Linked DNA regions of Homo sapiens. The protein of the gene in region 3 interacts with the protein of the main gene of each other region in a biochemical or structural test. Each region holds a gene or a part of one and is shown on either strand. Other genes may lie near its edges.

What was found.
Region 1: the proteins of EEF1D (region 3) and CAMSAP2 form a complex in vitro, tested with the Homo sapiens proteins (one study listed by BioGRID).
Region 2: the proteins of EEF1D (region 3) and GARS1 form a complex in vitro, tested with the Homo sapiens proteins (one study listed by BioGRID).
Region 4: the proteins of EEF1D (region 3) and RNF20 form a complex in vitro, tested with the Homo sapiens proteins (one study listed by BioGRID).

Annotation. Positions count from the first base shown.
Region 1 is NC_000001.11:200,856,883-200,861,310, forward strand, and holds the end of CAMSAP2 (calmodulin-regulated spectrin-associated protein 2), read left to right. Parts: intron 1-423; coding exon 424-542; intron 543-871; coding exon 872-1,177; 3' UTR 1,178-3,822; downstream 3,823-4,428. UniProt on the Homo sapiens protein: Key microtubule-organizing protein that specifically binds the minus-end of non-centrosomal microtubules and regulates their dynamics and organization.
Region 2 is NC_000007.14:30,600,695-30,605,122, reverse strand, and holds part of GARS1 (glycine--tRNA ligase isoform 1 precursor), read right to left. Parts: intron 4,065-4,428; coding exon 3,923-4,064; intron 2,090-3,922; coding exon 2,001-2,089; intron 1,628-2,000; coding exon 1,551-1,627; intron 1-1,550. UniProt on the Homo sapiens protein: Catalyzes the ATP-dependent ligation of glycine to the 3'-end of its cognate tRNA, via the formation of an aminoacyl-adenylate intermediate (Gly-AMP).
Region 3 is NC_000008.11:143,583,916-143,588,343, reverse strand, and holds part of EEF1D (elongation factor 1-delta), read left to right. Parts: intron 1-1,491; coding exon 1,492-1,615; intron 1,616-2,053; coding exon 2,054-2,125; intron 2,126-4,428.
Region 4 is NC_000009.12:101,543,527-101,547,954, reverse strand, and holds part of RNF20 (E3 ubiquitin-protein ligase BRE1A), read right to left. Parts: intron 3,189-4,428; coding exon 3,070-3,188; intron 1,136-3,069; coding exon 989-1,135; intron 819-988; coding exon 741-818; intron 557-740; coding exon 437-556; intron 1-436. UniProt on the Homo sapiens protein: Component of the RNF20/40 E3 ubiquitin-protein ligase complex that mediates monoubiquitination of 'Lys-120' of histone H2B (H2BK120ub1).

The DNA.
Region 1 (4,428 bases), on a different chromosome or scaffold from region 3:
TTTCCATGTTACTCACTCTGCTTCTCTATGTTAGTTCAGTTGAACAATCTGAAAAAGAAAGCTTTTTTTTGCCTTTTGAAAAGACTTAAATTACTCATGGACCCATTCTACTCTAAGCTAACCAGTAACCGTATAGATTTAAGAAAGAAGGTTAAATAGGCAGTATGACAGTTATAGCAATATTTTATTTTTAGTACTGCTCTCACAGGGTACTCCAAAAGGCCATAGGAACATCCTCCATATCTCTGGGTGGATAAAACAATGTTTTGGTTGGATTGCAGCCAGTAAGAGGCCTTTAAGCACAGAATTTGGTCTTCTATTACAATATTTCAGCAGTGTAGGAACAATTACATCATTTTAAAATAGTAGTATTTCTGACTTAGGAATGTTATTTTTATTATTGTTGTTAAATCCCTACCATAGGACCAAAGCTCTACAAAGAACCCAGTGCAAAATCCAATAAGCACATAATACAAAATGCTTTAGCTCATTGCTGTTTGGCTGGAAAAGTAAATGAAGGTCAGAAGAAAAAAATACTGGAGGTAAGCATGTTTGCATGAAAATTAAATTTGGCAAACTGTAGAAGTCTTTTATCCATTCAAGAGAATGTACTCTCATGGGCCTAGACTTTCAACAGCATGTAAAAAGATCTGTAGCTAGATGTTTTAATTATCAGATTTAGTTTATTTTCACATTAGGTTCTGGAAGCCTGCAGATTTTATTAAAGACTAGCAATAGGCTTTAAGATTTGTCATTGAAATAATGTTATAAAATGTGACTAAGAAACGTAACATAATTATATAAACTTTATTCAGCAAAATAAAGGGTTTTTATTCGTGTTGTTATGTTGTTTTTGTTTTTTATTTTAAAGGAAATGGAGAAATCAGATGCCAACAACTTCTTAATCTTGTTCCGGGATTCAGGATGCCAGTTCAGATCTTTATACACTTATTGCCCAGAAACTGAAGAAATCAATAAACTGACTGGGATAGGCCCTAAATCTATCACTAAAAAAATGATTGAAGGACTTTACAAATATAATTCTGACAGGAAACAGTTTAGCCACATACCCGCTAAAACTTTATCTGCCAGTGTTGATGCAATTACCATTCATAGCCATTTATGGCAGACCAAAAGACCAGTAACACCCAAAAAACTTTTACCCACTAAGGCATAGAAGTTGGGAAATACTTGCTTCAGAACATTCATGGTAAATTTGCACTTCATCTTTCCTGCCTATAGAAAATCTTTCTAATTGCCAACAAGACTTTTATTAATTAAAACTGGACATTAAGCTCTGTTGTCATGAACAACTGGAATGTAAACCACAGTATTTTGGAGTGCAGAACATTCTCAATTAAGTGATAAGTCCAAATGATGAAGGAAATGTTTTAATTCACAAATGGAGATTTGTATGTGTTATCAGGTTCACCTGCTTGATATTAGATACATTAAAGCACTGAATTTTCATGGATATTAGTTGGATTTATCATTGAAATATGGTTAAGATTACAAATTATGTGTTTTATTTGTTGCTTTTTTTTAACCTTTTAATGTATATTCTTGTCTTCAGATGGTTTGCTATTTTTCTCTCCTGGGGGTTTATTCTAAGATACCTTTGTATTTTATTTCATGTGGAGATCATGAAAGTAGGAAATATACCTTTAGAAGTAACTCGCACCTTTCTTATGATGTTAAGAGAAACACTAGTGTTTAGTTTTACAGTAACCCTCATATTTTAATGGTGTTACAGCATTTGCAAAAATTATTCTGCTAAGTATTTACAACTCTATTTATTATTCACTCAAGTATTAACATTCTCTATTAAATAAGAGGAGGTGTTGTAAAGAGCTGCTAGTAGGTTCGCTTTAAACCACATGAGCTTAACCAAGAATATGTTATGAGAAGTTGCTGATTAAATCAGTGCTGTTTTTACACCACTTCTGGCCAACTCAGAATAATTTAGATTGTTCTTTTAACAAAAAAGGCTTTCTATCTCTTTTAAAGTAAGTCACTTTATAAGTTGGCAGAAGTGAATGACACTTTGAGAGTAGTCTTTCAATCTGAAGATGTAAGACTTCCTGAAACAAGTTCTCAAGAAGTCTTTACATTATATTTATAACTCATATAAAAATTATATTTAGAATTTTTAAACATGTACAAAGGGCTACATTTTAATTTTAAAATAGCTTCACATTATTTTACTTATATTGGGTTTTTCTTCATTTTAATCCTTTTCAAGTGGAATGGCTTAGAATAAGTATACACTTGAAATCTCCTCTACATGATCTTTGTTCTTTAACAGTGTATACCAGAGGGTTAGTTGGGGAAAAACTTCATTCTCAGGAAAAGACTTGAATGATTATGTGACCCTGTTATATTTCAGTGTTGTGACAAATGTGTAAACTAGCGGGGGAAGACAGTATTGTATCATAAATGAGATGCGTAGTTTGTTTTCTTTCATGGGAAGTAGAGATAAAAATATATACATTTCTCTAATTGAGTTGTTTAGAGAAAGAACTAATGTCTCATATGATGTATTTACTTATTTTAAAAAAAAGAATAGGAATGAGATGTCCCTGAGCTGTACTTTTCTATTATTATAAGGCCTTTAGGCATCAGTGCATCTGGGTTATCAACATTTTCTCAAATGCTGTCAATATTTTACTGTAATTTATGTTCTTATATTTATGTATATTTGTTAAAACTGTAAAAAAATTTCACAGATTTTTTTCCAATACCTGTGCAAGATACATGTGTAGCTCAAAACTATTTGTGATCTACTGTTTGCATGTAAGAGACCAGGATATGTAACTCTTATATTTTAAGTGTATACATATTGTGTATATAACATATGGATATTAAAAATGGGGAATTGCACATTTTACCTTTTGGACAGTAATTTCTATCACAGTTAGAAGGAAATGATAGTCAAATACACGTTTAGATTAAAACTAGTTTAAAAAATTATAAATGAATCTAATCAAAATGTGAATAGTAGTCAAAAGGATAATTTAATAAGCATTTTACGTTACTAAATTTGTTCATTTCAATATTAACTAAATTTCCCTCATCAAAGCAATCTTTGTGATATTACTTCGCTATTAAATAAAGAAAATTGGATGCAAGACAATGGAGAAACTTTAAAACTAAACAGGACCACCCTTTATTCTTAAATTTGTGTGTGTCCAACAGTTGAATTGAATGTCTATAAGGTCTAAAGGTAGAATGTGAATATTGCCACAGAGTTCATTGCTCTCAGTATAAGATTTTACTTTATTAATGCAGAAGGAATATGGATATATTTCTTTAAGTCTGCAGATTTTTTTATTATGGTGCAGCTTTTTTTTAATTATGTTTTTAAAATTATACAGTTGAAAAATATGCCATTTCATAAAGTCTGAGGATTTTCGTCAACCTTACTGAAACACACTGGTGCTTTCATCATCAGAGGTCAAATTATTATGATAACTATTCCATTAAGTTTGCCAAACATTTGTCGTGGTTACCAGTGCAGCCTGTCAAATTCTGCTATTTGACACAGCTTTGGAAAGATTTAGTTCTTGGTTTTTCCGTTTTGTATTAGAATGACTGTTACAGTTTTATTTGGCTGTTTAAAGCCAAATTCAGCTATTTAATTATGGTTTCATGGACACTGTTGAGCAATGTACAGTGTATGGTGTGCTTACCTGTCCACTCTAGAGCATTGCTTACAGGTTTTTTGTTTTTTAAGATGCTGTGCTGTAAAATACTGTCATACTTGCTATTTCCTGGTACAGTGTAGTTTTTCCCCTTTCATTTGAATAAAAGCATGGCACCAAATGACTCCTTTTCTGTTTCTTGAATAAAATGTAGTTTTTGGTAAAATTATTTGAACTTGAGATAACTCATACAGTTTTTCTATCCCCTAACCTATGTTTAAATTTAATAACTTGAATATTCATAACAGGCAACTTGAAATAATTAGCCTTTTAAAAATACTAACTTAGGGCAATGTTAAAAAGTCGGTAACTTTCTATGCTTAGCACAGACGGTCTACATAGTATGATTTATAAATGTGCTTATCTTATGTTAATCTTGCTCATACTAATTCACTATCTTTTGGTGAATTGATAGTTATATTGTACCAGAACTAGTGCTCTATGTCTTTGAAACTGAATGGCCAGTGAACTCACTGATCTGGAGTAGCCATGAGAAGCTAGTTCTTGACCATTATTTTGTAAGTTTCACTTTGATTTTGCTGATTCTACTTACTCAGAACAGAGTAAAGAAAAAGGTGTTTTTTAAGAAAAAAGAGATCTGATAACAAAACTATAAAATAATCGTCATGCCTAATTATATACCTGAAGAAATATCTGGTTAGTAGACATAAATGTGGTTTTCTAGCTTGGGACCTTTTTGATAGGTTCTGTAACTTCAGAGCACAGC
Region 2 (4,428 bases), on a different chromosome or scaffold from region 3:
TCCACCAGGGCCATTTCTGAGTGCTACACCATTTCCCATGGGTCCCTTACTTTTCATTGAAGATTATATTGACAGCTGTACATGCATCTGATATGGCAAGTCAAAAAACAAATTGCTCTCCTAGAACACAGATCTGAAATAAGAGAGAAGGCCAATGCTCAAACAATAAATTGACTTGTCAAATCAACTAGTTACTTCCCAACTCTGACAACGTACTTGGAAATGAATAATACTGTTAAGATCAAAAACATATACACAAAACCTCAGTAAATCTAAAATTCTGAATGGAAAATTTTAGGGATACTTAGAGGCATTTTCCATTTTTTCTAATAAAGGGCATGCCTTTGGATAAGAAAATGAGATGAACGTGTGGCTTCAACAGTATCAAAATGTAAGAAATAATTTTCTAAACCATGAGTAATTACTAAAACAATGAGCTTCAAGCAAGGGATAAAATTACACTCCACAAGTATCAAAATAAATCAGCAGATGATTCAACAGCCAAATTAAGAAAGTTTTCAATGTAAATGAAGAAGGAGAAATTATTTTAGCTATGTTGGAAAGTTAACTATCACAGAGAAAAAAAGCATGCTAAAAAAAAAATTAGGACAACAGTGGAAAAGTATCCAGTAATTCCCATGAAAAACAACATATTAGGGAGTTCTATATTCAGGCAGAGAGAGAGAGAGAGATCGGTGTAAAGAAAATAGGTATAATCACAGTATTGGTTTTTTGTTTTTTGCCCAAGGAAGTAAATAAAATTTAAGAGGTGAGCCTCAGTAGACCTCATGACTAAACATGGTGTTGGAGAAATGTACTTTGCCTAAACGGAATAGCCAACAGATGAGGTGAGACACCAGCAACATATATACATGAGCACATGCATCTTCCCAGGGAGACGTGCAGTTTTGATCACATTCTTAGGGTGGTCTGTGACCCAACAAAAGGATAAGAACTACTTCTAATATAGAAAGTATTCCTGCAATTGGTAAAAGGTCAGAATAAATTATCTCTGTGGTCTCTTTTTTGTCTTCTCTAAAATTTGTCAGCTTAAATATTATACAAATTATAAAACTTTAGGCCTATAGGCAAACTGAGAAAAGCAAGGACAGAAAAGTCAGGACCTGCTCATGAGGTTCTAAGAATAATAGCATGAAATCAGGGTCCAAGCAGAGGCAGATCAAGTAGCCAGTGAGAAAGTGCTCATCAAGTTATCTGCCCCGAAGTCTCCACACCAGTGCTGAACACTACCCATCATCAGTCACTCCTGTGGTTTTAGCTATTAAATCCAGAAAAGTAGTTTCCAAGGTCAGACAAATTGAATGCCTATTAACACGGACTTGTTAGTTTGGGCTGAAATAAAGGGTTAGTCACAAAAGAGAGAAGAAAATAAAAATGCAAAAAAAGAGACGCTATACAGGACAGAATTAACCTCTGCTTCATTACAATGTGGCCAGGGTCAGCATAATGGGAAATGCAACAGTCATTAAACACTGAAAGAAGGACAGCGACCACCTAGGTTACTCTGATAACATCTCTAGAGTACTCACCTGGGCCAAAACACTTTCCATTTCTGATTTCTTTTCGACAGAACACTTCTTATCAGACATCAATTTCTGTAAATGAGCTGTAAGAACAGTGTTGACATATATCAATCAATGGGAAAAAGGACAATGCACTTTTCAGTTTCAATGCTAGACAATTAAAAAGTAAATCCAAGCATAAAGTTCTTAATTTACATGAATCCCACAGTTGATTTTACAACAGCAGTCATGGTATTGTCTTGATTCATTTGCTAATTAGAAAAATTATCTGTATATAACTAATTATCTACATATAACTTTTTTAAAAAATAAAGGACTTGATCTATATACTTAAGATCTGTGCACTTTGCTCTTTGAATGTTATGCCTCAATAAAAAATTTAATGAAAGACATCTGAGAGAAAGTTTAAACCTTTTATTTTGATCAATCCTACCTGAAGGAGATGAAGAACCTCACCTTTTAATAGATGGTCAGCACGAAAACATTCTCCATTTTTTACGTCTTTCACCATGAAGTCAGCAAATTTGTCTACATGGCCAGAGGTCCTAAATTAACAAATGCCAACCCAATTTGTCATTCTCATACAAATTACACATAGATATTACCTTATAAGATAATTCCCCATCAATATTTATATCCATCTCAAAGATGGAAGCTCCCATATCTATAGTAATGATGTATCCATGACAGTAATGGATGCCAGAGAAAATTCTTCCTCAAATCTATTTCTCACCCTCTCCCACATTCTTCCTTCCCATAAGAAAGAAGACATTAACTAGACAATAAAAAGACAATTCTTTTCTACAAGTTGTCATAAAGTCTGTACTATTCTTCAGGATCAATTAATCCATGCCTATGCCATTATTATTAGTGATCTAAGCAAAGGCCAAAATCACTGGGAATTTGACTAGTTAAGAATTCATGGCAGCTCAGTATAGACATTGAACCTTAAGGGAAGTGTTTTCTGCCACTGAAACCTGTACTGACATTGGTATTATCTCTACAAAGTTCCTATTGGTGGAACAAGTAGCTAAAATGATAGGTAGTCCTGATCTTATAGAGCCATCATTCAGAATTCCTCCTCTTCATTGGCTGAAATTATTAAGAGAACCTAACGGATGCCAATAGTAAAAATTAGCTCTCCACCAGTCAACCTTAAATGAATAATGACGAGTTACAAAATGGCAAGAATTCCTCTTTCAGGCCGGGCGCAGTGGCTCACGCCTGTAATCCCAGCACTTTGGGAGGCCGAGGCAGGCGGATCACGAGGTCAGGAGATCGAGACCATGGTGAAACCCCGTCTCTACTAAAAATACAAAAAAATTAGCCAGGCACGGTGGCAGGTGCCTGTAGTCCCAGCTGCTCTGGAGGCTGAGGCAAGAGAATGGCGTGAACCCGAGAGGCGGAGCTTGCAGTGAGCAGAGATCGCCCCACTGCACTCCAGCCTGGGGGACAGAGCGAGACTCCATCTCAAAAAATAAATAAATAAATAAAAGAATTCCTTTCAGTTTCACATTCTGAAATTCTGCCCTACTTTGGGAGGCCGAGGCGGGCGGATCACGAGGTCAGGAGATCGAGACCACCCTGGCTAACATGGTGAAACCCCGTCTGTACTAAAAATACAAAAAAAAAATTAGCCAGACGTGGTGGTGGGTGCCTGTAGTCCCAGCTACTTGGGAGGCTGAGGCAGGAGAATGGCGTGAACCTGGGAGGCAGAGCTTGCAGTGAGCCGAGATCAAGCCACTGCATTCCAGCTTGGGCGACAGAGCAAGACTCCATCTCACACACACAAAAAAAGGAAATTCTGCCCTACTTTCAATAACGTTGGTAGGAATAATCTAAGTTTCTGCATTGAAACTTTAAAACAAATAGTATTTAACTGAAAATCTCTACAAGTATACCTTTGCTCAGAACTTGTATTAAGGAAATAATCAAGGATATACCCAAAAATCCATCTATCAAGATATTCGGTGCAGTCAAAAATGAGAAACACTTTAATGCTTTCAATATGGCACAAACTAACATATTATGGCACTTCCATAAAACAGAATACTATGCTATCATTAAAAATGCTTTAGATGAATAGTTAATGATATGAGTATATGTTCATCAATATTACATGAAAATAAGCAGTGTACTGCTAACACTGAAATACATAGGGACGTACAGAAAAAACAGGAAGGACAAACACAATCATCTTAACATAGCTATCTGTGAGCAGAAGGTATACATTTCTTTGCTTTTCCATATTTTTCAGATTTTCTACATGAAATGAGTAGTTCTTTATAATCAGGAAGTTATTTAGATAAGTATATTAAATAATTTAATAAGTTATTTTATTTAAAGTAGGATACCCCCACTCCAAAGTAAGATCTCACTTTAAAACTGGCTCAGGGGTGAGCATGGTGCAATCGATCTCCAGGATCTGTTCCTCTTGGATAAAGTGCTGCCTCCAGGTCTGAATAATATTGTTCTTCAAAGCACAGCCAACTGGCCCAAAGTCATACAGACCACTAACACCTATAGAATATGAGAGGAAAACACATACTTTACCTTGTTACTCTGAACAAATGAAGGCAAGGAGACATGAGAAACTGATACCTATACTCCCTAAAAGTGTATTCAAGTCAACAATGCAAATCCCTCAATACTGAAGAACCTTACTTTCAGCTAGCTGATGGAAGTAAAATAAAAAAGCTCTTACGCCATTTACTAATTCTATATTTGTAATTTCAAGTAGGACTAGCCCAAAATCTACAACAAAAGTTCCCCCTTAGAGAACAGAATGAAAAAGCAGATTACAGTTTTCTGCCGTAAAAATTACAAAATAATTTCTCACCACATCTGATAACAATGATCTATAATTTTAGCATCCAATTCTCTA
Region 3 (4,428 bases):
ATTGGACTTGGAGGGGAATACAGAGGGCATGGAAGTGGCGAGGCTGGCCTGTTGGCGAGGGTGTCCTGGTGGTGGGGCGGGCTGAGTCAGGGAAGGACTCTGAAGGTCCCAAGCAGCTGCTGAGGCCCCCAAGGAAGTGGTTCCAACCTTGGACCCCTAGGGGTCTGGATTTGCTGGTTAACAAGATAACCTGAGGGCAGGACCCCATAGGGGAATGCTACCTCCTGCCCTTCCACCTGCCCTGGTGTTCACGGTGGCCTGGTCCCTCCTTGCCGAGAGAGTGTCCTGGGTCAGGGACGCAGAGGACGCTCACAGACTCCAGCCCTTTGTTACCGAGAGGACACTTGGCAAGGTCCAGCGATGGTCCGGAGTCCACACACAGACTGGCGGCAGGGCAGGAGGGGGACAGTTCTGTTGTGCTTGGTTGGACAGTAAGAGGGTCTTGGCCAGTCCAGGGTGGGGGGCGGCAAACTCCATAAAGAACCAGAGGGTCTGGGCCCCGGCCACAGAGTCATCTGCCCAGCTCCTCTGCTGCTGGCCAGTGGGAGTGGCACGAGGTGGGGCTTTGTGCCAGTAAAACCACAGGCTGGATTTGCCTGCGGGCCATGGTCCCTGTCTAGGGCAGCAATTCTCAACCTTCTTGCTCTCAGGACCCCAAAGAGCTTTCATTGTATCTATTGATTTTTACCACATTAGCAATTAAAACTGAGAAATGGGCCGGGCACGGTGGCTCACGCCTGTAATCCCAGCACTTTGGGAGGCCGAGGCGGGTGGATCACCTGAGATCAGGAGTTCAAGACCAGCCTGGCCAACATGGTGAAACCTTGTCTACTAAAAATACAAAAAATTAGCCAGGCACAGTGGTGTGCACTGGTAGTCCCAGTTACTCGGGAGGCTGAGGCAGGAAAATCGCTTGAACCCAGGAGGCGGACGTTGCGGTGAGCCGAGATCGCGCCGCTGATTCCAGCCTGGGCGACAAGAGTGAGACTCCATCTCACACAAAAAAAAAATAACAAAAAAACTCAGAAATGCTAAGTGTACTTATTTGTTGAAGAAACTTGTTACATATTACTAACATCTTTTTTTTTTATGAGAAATACTTTTCCCATAACCAAAAAATTCAGTGAGCAGAATGGCCTTGCTTGAGGTTTTTGCAAATCTCTCGGGTGTCTGGCTTAGTGGGAGGCAGCTGGGCCCTCATACCTGCCTCCGCACTTCAGCTGTTTGACATAAACCCAGCTTCGTGTGAGTGAAAGGGAAGGGCCTGGGGACCCTCAGAGGTTCTCGGACCACACTTTGAGAACTCCTCGTCTGGAAGACAGGCCTGGGGATGCCATGTGGGGTGAGGGCTTACGGGCTTGGTGTCGCTTTGTGGAGAACCGCTGGTGTCTGAAGCGGGTGTCAGCCCCACTGCACCTTGGTGCTTCTGGGCTGTCCTGATGCCGAGGCCCACTTCCCAGCCATGCTGACTTTGCCTCTTTCCCCTCCCAGCAGAAAAATGGCTACAAACTTCCTAGCACATGAGAAGATCTGGTTCGACAAGTTCAAATATGACGACGCAGAAAGGAGATTCTACGAGCAGATGAACGGGCCTGTGGCAGGTGCCTCCCGCCAGGTGAGAGCTGCACGTGGGGCGGCTGGGCGGCTCTGCTGCCCGACAGGAGTGGCCGGGGCACACAAAGCGGATTCAGCCAGGCCAGGAAGGCAGAGGCACCCTGGCCCAGTGGCTCTGCTGTGGGTGCTGGGAGTGGGGTCTCGGGGCAGGCGGCCTTGGCCGGGCCCCCGGGCCGGGTCTGCTCAGGGCCCTCCTGCCGGCGCCTGTGCACTTGGTGTGGGGCCAGGCCTGGCACTCCTTCCCCCGCAGACATGGGCGCCTTTGCCTGTCGTCACAGCCTCAGGCATCTCCCGCTTTTCTGGCCCGCCAAGCTCTCGTTCTGTGCAGTACTTTCTTGCTGTCTCTATGTGAGGGTTCATGGGGTTTTTTGGTTTGTTTTTTAATTAAATTCTTTTTTAATAATAAAAAAAAGACTGGTTCTTTCTGCACTGTCTGCAGGAGAACGGCGCCAGCGTGATCCTCCGTGACATTGCGAGAGCCAGAGAGAACATCCAGAAATCCCTGGCTGGAGTGAGTACCCGCGGCCCACGGACCTGCGGGCTCCTGCTCGGCCAAGCAGCATGTCTGATTTTTCCTGATGCTGCTGGTTGTTTTGGCTTCACAGCAGAGTCAGGGCAGGGTGCACGGCGCTGTGCTCCTTGGGACGTGTGGCTCTGTGACCTCCATGCCCGGACTGCCACGGACAGTGTTCTTATTCTCGCGTCCCTTCCGTGCTTACCTCGTCTGCCGGCTGGCGGTCACACTGGCCGCTCCTGTGGGGCCGGCTGGGAGCTGAGTGGTGCCATTTGCAGGGTGTCCTGTGGGCACCTGGCATGAGAGCCTGTGCCTCCCTGCTTGCTCCCTGTGGCAGGACTGTGTGTCTGCTGGGCCTTCCCACATTCCCTCTTAGATCTTGCCTCACTGGGGAGAGAGAAGTGGTGGTTCTGCAAGGCGCAAGGAGTTCAGAGCCTAGAGTTGGCACCGTCTTGAGTTGGAGACCCAGAAGGAGCCCTGTATCCCTGCTTGGCCTCCAGGCCCCGGGCCAAGATCAGGAGTTGGAGGCAGTAGCTGTGGCCTGACAGGCTGGCTGGGGAAGGGGTGTCCTCCGGGAGGTGGCAGCCCTGGTGTTCCCGAGGAGTTGGGACTGCGTTCTCCCCGGGACGGGGTGGTGTCCTGGCCCCAAGAACGGGGTCAGTGTTTCTGTGGCTGCTGCTATGGCTTTCCACAGCCTCACGCTGGAAACAGTACATCTGTATCATGCCGGGTTTCCAGGCCAGAAATCTGAAATGTGTCTCACGAGGCTGTCCCCAGTGTCAGCAAGGTCGCCATCCTTCCAAAGGCTCAGGAGGAGTCTGTTCCTTTGCCTCTCCCAGATTCTGGTGGATGCCCACGTTGCTTGTTTCAAGGTGCTCAGCAGGCAGCCTCATCCCCGCCCCGCCTCCACTTCCATCTCGCGCCTCTCTCGAACCTCCTGCCTCGCTCTGTCACTTACGTGGTTCTTGTACTTGCTTTGGGCCCCCAGGATCCCAGGTCCAGGATGTTCCCACCTCAAAATCCTGAATTTAATCGTGTTTGCCAATTCTTCTTTTTGCCATGTAAGGTAGTGGATTTGCAGGCTCTGGGGGTTGGGACGTGGGCGCCGGAGATTCTCATTGTCTCATTTGTAAGGTGCATTGCTCCTCACCAACATCTGCAGAAGCCTGGGTCCCCCACAGTGTCCCTCCAAAGTCCAGAATCCCATCCAATCAGGCATGGGGGATTGCGTGGTCCATCCTGAGGCAAAATTCCTCTCCATCTGTGGACCAGTGAAACTGGAAAGCAAGTTATCTGCTCCCAAAATACAATTGTGGGACAGGCATTCCCTTTCAAAATGGGAAAAAGAAGAAGGAAACAGGGCGTCACTAGTCCCAGGCAGTTTCACAGTCCAGCCCGGCGGGTCACGTGAGGTTTGAAGGGAGCGCTCCTGTGTGGCCCATGGTCCCCCCCGCTGTCATTTTTTAACATCCCTATTCCTACCAACAGCATGTTCGTGGCAGTTTAGGTTGTTCTAGAAGATGACGTGTTTTCTCTGCCCTGCTCCTCACCTCCTCTGAGTCCTCACCGAGGGCCTTAGCATCTGAATTCTGCCAACAGGGTGCTCAAGACAGGCTAGGGTTTTTCTTTTGGAGGGGGTGGGTGAGTTGTGGACAGAGTCTTGCTCTGTCGCCCAGGCTGGAGTACAGTGGCATGATCCTGGCTCACTGCAACCTCAGCCTCTGGGGTTCAAGCGATTCTCCTGTGTCAGCCTCCCGAGTAGCTGAGACTGCAGGTGTCTGCCACCAAGCCCAGCTGACATTTTTTTTTCTTTTTTTTTTTTTTTTTAGTAGCGGCAGGGTTTCGCCATGTTGGCCAGGCTGGTCTTGAACTCCTGACCTTATGATCTGCCCACCTCGGCCTCTCAAAGTGCTGGGATTACAGGCGTGAGCCACTGTGCCCGGCCCAGTCTAGGGGTTTTCTGTCACGCTCCTCAAAATTCTTCCCGCCTCACCACTGCCCAACTCCAAAGCCATCTCCACATTGTTAGGCATTCCAGCAGCACCCCACTTCCTGGGCCAGGATCTGTGTTGGTTTCCACTTGATGTTGCTGTAACGTTGCCACACTTCCGTGGCTTAAAACAGCACAAGTTCCTCACCTTACAGTTCCGGGGGCCAGAAGTCTGAGATCATCTTATGGGGCAAAATCAAGGCTGTGGTCCTTCTGGTGTCTCTGCGGGGAGAATCCGCTTCCTTGTCTCTTCTGGCTGCTGGAAGCTGCTCACGGTCCTTGGCCCAAGGCTCCCAGGCAGCTGTCTTGT
Region 4 (4,428 bases), on a different chromosome or scaffold from region 3:
TTTATAGTTCTAACAGTTTTTTCGTGGAGCCTGTAAGGTTTTCTATATATAAAGTCATGTCATCTATAAACAGAAACAACTTTACCTCTTCCTTTCTGATTAAGAGGCCTTTATTTCTTATCCTTGCCTAATTACTCTGGCTAGGACAAAAGTAATGACAGCGAGCATCTTTATCCTGTTCCTGATCTTAAAGGAAAAGCTTTCAACTTTTCGCCATTGGGTATAATGTTGGCTGTGGGCTTGTTTTATATGGCCTTTATTATGTTGAGGTACACTTCTTTACACCTAATTTGTTAAGAGTTTTATCATAAAAGGATGTTGGATTTTGTCTACATTTTTCTTATCCCTCATGAATACGCAGATTCACAACTATGTATATACGTGAGTTGATCAGCAGAACGTCTGATTTTACTGCCCTTCAGGGATGCGTTCCTACCTTCAGCTTTTCATTTTGTGTAGTGACCTCCTCAAAGTCTTGCCGAAGTTTCTCCAGCTCACAGAGACGGTTCTGAGCCAACTCTTTGTTCTCCTCAAGCTCTGCATTCATTTCCTCAAACTGCAGAGAAGCAGAAAAATAGAGAATAAATAAGTATTCTTCTTAAATCATTTCTAAGCTTCCTTTCTTCACTGATTCGCTATTCCAGCAAAACCCCATGATGTCACTTGTGAACACAGTCCTAAGTACCTAAGCATGAAAGCTGACATACAGTCCAAAACATGTCCTGAGTCACTGATTTTACCTTCCGAGCATTGATAGTGATTGTGCCGCCATACAGACTGCTCCCCGCTCCATACACCTTATAACCTTTGGAATTCACCTACAGAGAACACAAAGATTCTTTAGTGAGAGACTCTTAAGATTTCAGTCTATAACCAATGTACCTTCAAAGGATGAGATTTTTTCCTCAAATACCATGCCCCAAGGTGAGTCTTCCTGAGAACACTCCTTAAAATGATTCTAGTCTCCAAGCCATAAAACAGCACTGACCCGTTCTAGGACTTCTGCTAAGTGTCGGTTGAGTCGCTGTTCCCTCTTTCGAATTTTGTCAATATCCCACTGCAGGTCATCAATCATGGACTCCAGGACAGACACTCGTGATTCGGCTGTCTCCACTTTACTCTGCAACTTGGAGAACTACATCCCAAAGACAAACATTCAGAAACATATAGCAAAAAAAGACCAAATTCCATAATATTAACCCTTGCTTATGAGTAATTATAGAAAAGAGGCAAATAGAAGATGCTTCACCCTCTTCCCAATGCATGATTACAAAAATGAAATCACGGATTCCTCCAACAATTCTGTGTCAGTTATAATCATGCAAACTTTAAGTCTAAAGTCTATAAGAACTCTCACACAAAGAAAAGACCACCTAAGATTCAACAATTTTTCTACCTCTGAAAAGCACCATTTCTCTGGACAGACCACAAACTCATAAAAATTTTGTAATTTTTTAAGAGATAATAAATAGTATCTTTTGTTTTGTAAGATAAATATTTTTTCAAAAAAACCATTTTTACCCCCAAATTTCTCTCCACAGTCCCACAAAAGGTAATCCATTCATTCACAACAAAAGAAAACTTCCATACTCTTTTTTAAGCTCACCCCAGAGCAATCTAGAGTCAGATACAATACAGTATAGATTATACTATAATCTAAAGTCAGATACTCTATTTAGGAGCTATACACCAGCTAACACTATTTAGTATTTTAACTACTAAACTATTACAAGTTCACATTAATCTATATATACCCTTTGTGCTAGGTTTTAAAACATGACACAAAAATCCTTTGAAAGTCCTCTGAACAAGAGGTGGGATCTTTGTTCCCTCCTCTTGAATCTGGGTCAACTTTAGAGACCCAATGGAAATGTCACTACACAATTTTGAGGCTATATCAGAAAGGCCATGAAGGTTCTACCTGGTGATCTTGGGATGCTCACTGGAAGAAGTCAGCCAACATGTAAAAATTCCAACCATCCTGAGACTACCATGATGGAGAGGCAAACTGCAGGTATCCCAGTAGACAATTAACCCAGCTGACAGGCAGCATCAACAGCCAGCCATGAGAGCCAACAAGGACATCACAGTTTAGCAAACAACTGCCCTCCAGGTTAGTAATACTATCTGAGATTTGTCAAAGGGCTAGAAAAGGAAGACCTCTCCATCTTGGTAGCACCTAGTCAATGTCTTAAAACATGATAAAAATATTCTATTTTCTTACTAGACTCCAGTTTATTTATAAGGGCTACTACATTCTAACCCCTTTGAAGGTCCAGGATAATCCATATGAATTAATAAATTCCCCAGATGATATTCATGCAACCAGGCCAGCATGGACCTTAACACTGGGGTTTAGTAAACAAAGGCATATGAAGAACAAGAGCTTTGAAGTCAAACAGACCTACAGTCACAACACAGCTCAATCACTTTCTAGCTATGTGCCCTCAGAATAATCACTAACCTCTTTGAATTTGTTTCTTTGGCAATAAAATGGGAGTTGTTTTGCCATTAGAGATAACATTCATAAAGTGCTTAAATTCTAGGCACTAAGTAAATGGCAACTACTAAATTACTAATTAGCATAAGAATTCAGTGGCCAAACTAAGGTGGGGCAAATTCCAGTAGAATATATTTTGAACTAAATCAAAATGATCATCAGAAGTATCAGAAAAGTCATTTAAGGCCTATCATCACTTTATCTTGATCATTTTGTGTAAATAAATAAATGTCCAAATCTTGGCATGGTTTAATCATGGCATTATTTGCACCCAAGTTTAGACTGAAAATTGACATTCCTCAAATTCCTAGGACATCATCAATACAGTAGTTTCTACTTCCCCATTCCCTGTGGAATTTCTACCACGCCATTCCTCAATAACACTATACAGTCTTTTATATTTAGGGTAATTCATTATTTGGAGGTTTGGAGTTGTGTTGTGTTTTACAAAATCCCCTATGATATGATAGGCCTTCTAGAGTAAGGTAATCTTTGAGGTGCTCAGAATTGTAAGTCAACATCTGCCACAGCCCACTAGACACAGCCATCTCTCCTTTTTGGTTAAGTACCTCCTGAGACATGGTGCGATGCTTTTCCTGAAGAAGATCTGTCAATTCCTGTAGCCTCATATTCTCCTGTGCGAGGAAAGAGTTCAGCTCCTGCACTGCTTCCTCCACTATCAGATTATCTGGGGAAGAAGAACTATACTTTAATTTAGCATCTAGAGTGTCATTTTTTTTTTTTTTTTAAGACGGAGTCTTGCTCTATCGCCCAGGCTGGAGTACAGTGGCGCGATCTCGGCTCACTGCAACCTCTGCCTCCAGGGTTCGAGCCGATTCTCCTGCCTCAGCCTCCAGAGTAGCTGGGATTACAGGCACATGCCACCACACCCGGATGATTTTTGTATTTTTAGTAGAGATGGGGTTTCACCATGTCGGACAGGCTGGTCTCAAACTCCTGACCTCAGGTGATCCACCCACCTCAGCCTCCCAAAGTGCTGGGATTACAGGTGTGAGCCACCGTGCCTGGCCTATAGTGTCAAATTTTAAAACTGTGTATCCTTGGCCAGGTATAGCAGCTCACGCTGTAATCCTAGCACCTTGGGAAGCCAAGGCAGGCCGATCACTTGAGGCCAGGAGTTCAAGACCAGCCTGAATAACAAAGCAAGAATCATATGCTCTTATCACATATTCTCATATCATATATTCTGAAATACTATGTTAGGGGCACTTCTGAAGCTTAAAAACCAAAATGTACACTACTATTTACAAAGCAGGTAGGTAAATCCATAGAACTTATTACACCAAGTTCGTATGTTTAAAATTAGAGTTGCAAATACTATAGCTGAAATCCAAATGTAATTAAATGAAACCAGATACTCTCAGGATATATACCACCCATCAAAGAGAGTTATCAGGAAGAAAAATATGCTTTCTCATATCACCTCTTGGCATTACTCTTAGTATCAATACAGAACAGGTTGGTCATATGGTGGTTTTCATGGTTTTCAAGCTAGGCTTGCCCATCAGAATCACTTGTGGAACTTTTAAAATAGACATTTCCCTAGGACCTATCTCATACCTACTTAATAAGAACCTCCATGGGCAAAGCCAAAAATAAGAATATGCTCAGAAAACTCCCAAGGTTATTCTGATTCATAACCTGAGTTAAGAAGTAGAGACTGAATTTTAGTCCTCTCAATATCCTAAGCACTGAGGACAGGGCTAGAATACAATAAAATTCAATAAATGTTTAGTGAATTTATAAACAAGCCCATAAATGCAATTCTTTTGAATCAAAGACCAAACAAACAGACAGTACTGCCCTGGCAGGTTAGACAGTGCCGCCCTGGCAGGGTTAGACAGTGCCGCTCTGGCAGGTTAGACAGTGCCGCCCTGGCAGGTTAGACAGTTCCGCTCTGGCAGGGT